Regions from separate parts of the Homo sapiens genome. Here region 1 is reported to be linked to region 2. Evidence: microRNA targets listed by miRTarBase, many of them from high-throughput screens and not tested one by one. Region 2 holds a microRNA gene; the other region holds the end of a gene's coding sequence.
What was found. The annotated mature microRNA hsa-miR-6792-5p reads GUAAGCAGGGGCUCUGGGUGA and lies in region 2 at 2,039-2,059, opposite strand. An mRNA with a match to its seed (bases 2 to 7 or 8) in the 3' UTR can be bound and repressed. Matches are read on the target gene's strand: a 7mer-m8 pairs with bases 2 to 8, a 7mer-A1 pairs with bases 2 to 7 and ends in A, and an 8mer does both.

Region 1: the mRNA of ISL2 is a reported target of hsa-miR-6792-5p. The part of its 3' UTR that is shown has no 7-base or 8-base seed match.

What each region holds. Positions count from the first base shown.
Region 1 is chr15:76,341,502-76,344,846 of GRCh38, forward strand. ISL2 (ISL LIM homeobox 2) reads left to right here. Exons shown (of 6, transcript NM_145805.3): 6 at 218-974. The coding sequence ends at 334. LOC124903532 reads right to left here and starts at 1,923. Exons shown (of 1, transcript XM_047433420.1): 1 at 892-1,923. The coding sequence starts at 1,923. The coding sequence ends at 1,279.
Region 2 is chr19:7,616,107-7,619,497 of GRCh38, reverse strand. It overlaps MIR6792 (microRNA 6792), which reads right to left and starts at 2,059; the gene lies at 1,993-2,059. It overlaps CAMSAP3 (calmodulin regulated spectrin associated protein family member 3), which reads right to left. Exons shown (of 17, transcript NM_020902.2): 14 at 2,876-2,975; 15 at 2,060-2,172; 16 at 1,837-1,955; 17 at 1,194-1,746. The coding sequence ends at 1,441.

The DNA.
Region 1 (3,345 bases), not on the chromosome of region 2:
AAAGTGCTCACAAGAGAGGTCGCAGGATTAACCAACCCGCTCCCCCGCCCTAATCCCCCCCTCGTGCGCCTGGGGACCTGGCCTCCTTCTCCGCAGGGCTTGCTCTCAGCTGGCGGCCGGTCCCCAAGGGACACTTTCCGACTCGGAGCACGCGGCCCTGGAGCACCAGCTCGCGTGCCTCTTCACCTGCCTCTTCCCGGTGTTTCCGCCGCCCCAGGTCTCCTTCTCCGAGTCCGGCTCCCTAGGCAACTCCTCCGGCAGCGACGTGACCTCCCTGTCCTCGCAGCTCCCGGACACCCCCAACAGTATGGTGCCGAGTCCCGTGGAGACGTGAGGGGGACCCCTCCCTGCCAGCCCGCGGACCTCGCATGCTCCCTGCATGAGACTCACCCATGCTCAGGCCATTCCAGTTCCGAAAGCTCTCTCGCCTTCGTAATTATTCTATTGTTATTTATGAGAGAGTACCGAGAGACACGGTCTGGACAGCCCAAGGCGCCAGGATGCAACCTGCTTTCACCAGACTGCAGACCCCTGCTCCGAGGACTCTTAGTTTTTCAAAACCAGAATCTGGGACTTACCAGGGTTAGCTCTGCCCTCTCCTCTCCTCTCTACGTGGCCGCCGCTCTGTCTCTCCACGCCCCACCTGTGTCCCCATCTCGGCCGGCCCGGAGCTCGCCCACGCGGACCCCCGCCCTGCCCCAGCTCAGCGCTCCCTGGCGGCTTCGCCCGGGCTCCTAGCGGGGAAAAGGAAGGGGATAACTCAGAGGAACAGACACTCAAACTCCCAAAGCGCATGATTGCTGGGAAACAGTAGAAACCAGACTTGCCTTGAAAGTGTTTAAGTTATTCGACGGAGGACAGAGTATGTGAGCCTTTGCCGAACAAACAAACGTAAGTTATTGTTATTTATTGTGAGAACAGCCAGTTCATAGTGGGACTTGTATTTTGATCTTAATAAAAAATAATAACCCGGGGCGACGCCACTCCTCTGTGCTGTTGGCGCGGCGGGAGGGCCGGCGGAGGCCAGTTCAGGGGTCAGGCTGGCGTCGGCTGCCGGGGCTCCGCGTGCTGCGGGCGGGGCGGGCCCGGTGGGGATTGGGCGCGGCCGAGGGGGTGGGGCTGGGCGCATGCGCGCTGAGGGCCCTCCCAGAAGCAGGAGCGCCCCATTGGCGACCCCTGGGCACCTGGCGGCCCAGGCCCGCGGGCAGGAGGCGGGACCCGTTTGGGCGGGAAACCTGCGGCACTTGTGGCGGTTGAGCGGCGGACTCCGGCCTAGGGTTATGCGGGCGAGGGCGCGCCCCGCTCCCGGAACCAGCCTTGGCCTGGCGCCTGCCGAGCCCCGAGCCCCACTCTCGCTCGGCGCCGCGGGCCCTCCCGGCGCTTCCTTCCCCAGCGGTCCGCGGCCCTGGGTGAGGCTCGAAGCCCCGCGCGCTGCCCCTGGCCCTGCAGCACAGCAGTGAGGCCAACCCCGGCCAGAGCGGGCGGCCGTGACGGGCCGTGCCCCGCGCTGTCCCCGGAGTGGATGCGCGACGTGATCAATCCGCGGCATTTATTAATTCCACAGTCTAGACAGAGGCGGGGGCCGGGCGGCGGCTGCTTATCTGCGTTTGGCATCACCTGCAAGCGATACACCGAGGGGCCGCAACGAGCCCCCGCTAGGAGCGCGGCTGCCGGGAAAATAAGTCCACCCAGAACCAGTCTGGCGTGTCCTTGGTTTATTTTCTTTCCAGACCGAAGTGGAGGGGGTCGGGGGTGGCCCGGGTGGGAGGGAGCTGGGAATGGCCCCTGGATATGCCGTGCCCAGGTCACTTGGTGTGACATTTCAAACCCCTGCGACTTGTTTTCTTGAAAACTGGCTTTAGTGATCGCAGGAAATAACCGAGAGATACTGAATCTCCAGTAGGCCTCCGGGCAACCGCGCATACACAAAAACAAAAAACCCCAAAAGAAAGAAAGAAAAAAAACCCACGGAGGCTCAGGTTTTACTCTTTACAAATATTTAACCCTTTGGCAGCCTGGGACAGTTCTTTTCCAAGACCAGCCTTCACTTAGTGGACTGAGGGAGCTTCCCGACTACCAGTTAGTCCACCGCTGTTGTAAGAACATCTGGCGTTGAGTTGTCGTTTCCCTGTCCCTCGAGTTAAGCGACCCACAAGCATATCCTTCTTTGTCCAAGGTTTGTTTTGAAAGTGGGCAACGCCCTAACTGGGTAGGGGATAGTTGCCATCTTAGCTTAGGTAGGGGCTGGCAAGGAAAACGTGTCTGGGGGGCCCTGTAGTCTTCAGATAGAAAAGTAGGTGCCTTCTGTTAGCCATGGCTGCTTGGATGGCCAAAGGCCACTGTGGGTTTTTCAGCAGCGCTTTTAGCAGAATTCCTTCACACTGCCCCCACCCCACTTGCAGATGATGGAAGGCTTGCTGGCAATTACTGAAAGAAAATGGGAGGTGGGAAAATGGAGCTGCATTTATATTTTACTTCCTGAATGTCAAGGTGATGCTGGCACAAATATTAAAGGGAACATTCCCCTTCTTTGGGATATAGGAAATGCTGCTGCAAACTTAGAGATAAGGGAAGAGATATGCAGAGTTAATGAGGACCAGCTTTACCTCTCAAGTGCCCAGAAATGGCTTTAATAATCAGGTCTGGGTTCTTTGAGGCTTCCTTTCTTTAACTTAGACCATTCCTTCCCAACAGAAATACAGATTTCTCCTTTTACCTTCTGGCTGGCCATTAGATAGGGGGCTAAAACTTCGAATAAATCTCACTGTCAAAAACTTTTGATTTATCCAGAATATTTGGGTTTTCTCATTTTTTTTAAAAAGGAAATAACAGGTTATTGAATAAAGAATTTCATTAATGGTTAATTAGCTCTGAATTTTTGCTTTTGACAGATTGCAGCGTTTTAACGCTATGAATGGAAACGTCTACATTAGTTATCTCAACATCTAATTAGTTATCTCTTTCCTCATCATCCATGAATCAAAAATCAAATTCCTCTTTTTGTTATTTATATGATTGTGTCTGTCTTTTTTGAATATTGGGAAGTTACCTAGATAAAAGTGGTTATTGTGTGTTAAGATTCCTGCATCTCTCTGTATCACTGTACAAAACATTACAAGCTTTTCTCTTCCATAGTTGCTACCCACCCAAAGGGGTGCATCGTTTTCTATGTGGGTTTCCAGGGAAAGGATTCAACTCTGAAGCCTTATTACAGTGGTCCCTAGTGAGGTGTCACATCTACGCTTGGTTAGTTACATTAATAAATATCAGTTTTACGGGTTCCCAAGTCATCTTTAAACATCTTTTGTAATACAGTAGGGATTTCCCCATAAATTAAATTACCTG
Region 2 (3,391 bases):
GGTGCCCGAGGGAGTACAGCTCAGGAGTGCCTGGCCCTGGGCCGGGATTGGCTGCTGTGGGAGGTGGGGCGGCTGGGCCCCAGGCCAGATACTGCCCGGCCTCACCCCGCAGAGCCAGTTCTGGACTCGAGAGGCCAGTCCCTCCGCTGCCTGGGGCCTTGGAGTGGGTCCTGCCCGGAAACTTCCTTGAGCCTCTGTAGCCTGGGAAGGGCAATCCAGCCCCTGGCTGCCCAGGTCTCGCCAGCCCCTGCCTCTCAGAGCCCTTCTGTGGCCCCAGGCAGCTGCCGCCTCCCTGGGGTGGCACCCACTGTCTGTTCCCCACTAGGGACTGGCCCTTGCCCTCAAGTCTTGGAGTCAGGCAGGCTCTGGCCCAGCTCTGGGAACTGATTAGTAACGCGTTTCTGTGCCTGGACGGGGGCCAGGCGCCAGACCTTGTGCACGGCCCAGGACCAGGGCGTGGTCCTTAGTCCTAAGCCTGGGAAGCCATTAGCGGGCTGTAGGCTATTAAGGGGTTTTAAGTATCAAGGGATATAATCAGATTTGTGCTTCGAACGGGTCACACAGGCTGCTGTGTGGGCAGGAGGCAGCTGGGGACATGGGGAGGCCCAGGCCATTGGCTTGGACTTTGCAGGGAGGTGACAGGGCTGGAGAGAAGCGAGTGAGACAGGAGGGGAGGGCTGAGCTGTGTAGAACTGGGCGGCAGCTGGGAAGCCAGTGCCAGCCTGGGTTGCAGGGCAGGCCTTGCATCTGAGAGAGACACCCAGGCAATGGCAGGGGGCAACTGGATTGTCAAACACAGATCTCAGAGAAACCTGGAATCACTGGCCCAGAGGTAGATGCCAGGCCTGGAAACACCAGGCTGGCCAGGGGAGACAAGATCAAGTTAGAAGTTGGCCCCATGCCAAACGCTGGTTAGGGCCAGTAACAACAGCCACACAGACCAGGAGAATCCAGCAAGCGGGGGTGGCCAAGGCCACAGGAAGGGCCAGTGGGACACCTCGAGCCTGAGAGATCAGTTCAGAGGCAGCTTCGAAACAGCCCTGGCTGGGGGCTGGGAGTGCCCTGGCTGAAGCTGCATTAGGGGATTATGGGGGTTGAAGACAGGAGTTGGTTTGAGAAAGAACAGGAGACTAAAAACACAGCCAGGGAGTGTGGGACCCCGGCCAGCCTCGGAGGGGGGGACAAGGTTCAACTTCTCTTTAAATTATTTTATTCAAGAAGTGGGGGAGGACAGACAAGGGGACTGAGCTGAGCCCTGAGTCCCTGAACCTCCCAGCTCAGCCCCCACAGCAGGACTGGACTCAAAGTCAGAGGGTGGAGACTCCAGCCCCACCCAGACACGGTTGGGGACAGACAGGACCCAGGAATACCGACTGACTGTCCTCCAGGGGATGGCGGCCGCAGCACACAGGGCCCGGCCCGTGGACCGCCCGGGTGGGGCTATTTGGGGGTGCCGCCGCCCTTCTTGGGAGTGGTGGGTTTCTTGCCCTGCCAGAGGTGTCCCTGGATGGTGAAGGCATCGACGCTCATGGACATGGTCTTGGCGGGGATCTGGGTGAAGCGCTTGCGGTCCGAGTTGTACTTGTAGATGCCTTCCACCATGGCGGGCGTGACGGTCCGGGGCCCATACCCTGCCAGCCGCGACAGCTCCTCTGTCTCCCCCGACAGCGTGTAGAGCGCCCGGAACTGGCAGCTCGAGTCGCGAAAGAGGATCAGGAAGTGGTTGGCCTTGCTTTTCTCAATTTCCTGGGCAGGAGTGCTGGAAATGGTCAGCTGGCCAAGTCAGGCCACCCACCCACCCACCAGCCCCCAACTCCCACGTGTGGGCGGGCTCACCTCCAGAATGCGATTCTTCTGCGGTTCGTTCACCTTGCCCGCCAGGCAGCAGTGTGATAGGGCATTGTGGATGATGAACTTGTTGGACTTGGCGCTGGGTTCTTTGTACAGCCGTGGACCTAGAGGGTGAGGCAGTGGGAGGGGGTGGGGGGCAGCAGGAATGAGCAGGGGCTGTGGAGGAGGGTGCCTGTTGCTCCTCACATCACCCAGAGCCCCTGCTTACCTGTGTACTCGGGCACTGACGCTGGGGAGGAGGCATTGCTGCCATTTTCCCAGTCCCGTTCGCGGCTTCCAGGCAGGCGGCTTGGGGACATGAGACCTGACGGGGAGGGAGCCCTGCAGTGGGAGAAGGATGGGATGGAGGTGGGGTCAGGATGGGATGGAGGTGGGGTCAGAGATGGGAAGCTTCCCTATGTGCAGAGGGGCCAAGGAAAATAAGGGCCACGGCTGGGCATCGTGGCTCATGCCTGTAATCCCAGCACTTCGGGAGGCCAAAGCGGGCAGATCACTTGAGGTCGGGAGTTCGAGGCCAGCCTGGCCAACATGGTGAAACACCGTCTCTACAGGCACGGGTAACCCCAGCTACTCAGGAGGCTGAGGCACGAGAATCACTTGCACCCAGGGGGCGGAGGTTGCCGTGAGCCAAGATTGCGCCACTGCACTCCAGCCTGGGCGACACAGCAAGACTCCCTCTCAAAAAAACAAAAAAAAAAAAAAAAAAAAAAAAGGCGGGCCACACACACTGCAGAGGAGGCGGTATACACTGCACACCCTCCCAAGTCCATGCAGTGCCCCGTGCTGTCCTCCTCCCACAGGAACACCTGGCACTCAAGTGCACTGAGGCACATGCTTGAGTCCTGTCTGCCAGGTACAGACTATGCCCCATGCACACGTGCCCACACGCGTCCCTCCATCTCTTCATGGCGTATCCATAAACTCGAGCCATACCGCCCTCTAGGTTCACCCAGATGCCCACACACCTCCCAGGCTCTGGGAAGCCACCCGGCATACGAACCCCGCCTGTGCGGGCTAAACTCACCGAGACGTGGGCCTCTTCACCCCGAGGTTATTGTGGGCCTCGTTGGCCACAGTGGACAGTGACAGGGTGGACTGGGAATAGATTTTGCTCAGCCGAGAGCCTGGGGACAGAGATTGCAGGTCAGTGCCCACCAGAAGCCCCTGCCCTCCACAACACCCGGTCCAGCAGGCTGTGGGGGGAACACAGGAGGAGTCAGTCCTGCCCAAGACCCCTCGGCCCTCTGCAGCACCCCTATGGGGGGACCCCTCTATGAGGGAGGATGCTTTGCCCAGCAGGCAAGTGGGGAGCAGCACTGGGTCAGCCCCTACTGGCAACGCCTCACCCCAAACATACTCCCAAAGGTTCCTATCCATGAAGCCACAGAAGAAAGACCCCTCATCCCACTGCACCCCACATCCCTATGGAAGTCTTTTTTTTTTTTTTTTGTCTTATTTCTGAGACGGAGTCTCGCTCTGTTGCCCAGGCTGGAGTACAGTGGTGCAATCTTGGCTCACCGCAACCTCCACCTCCCAGGCT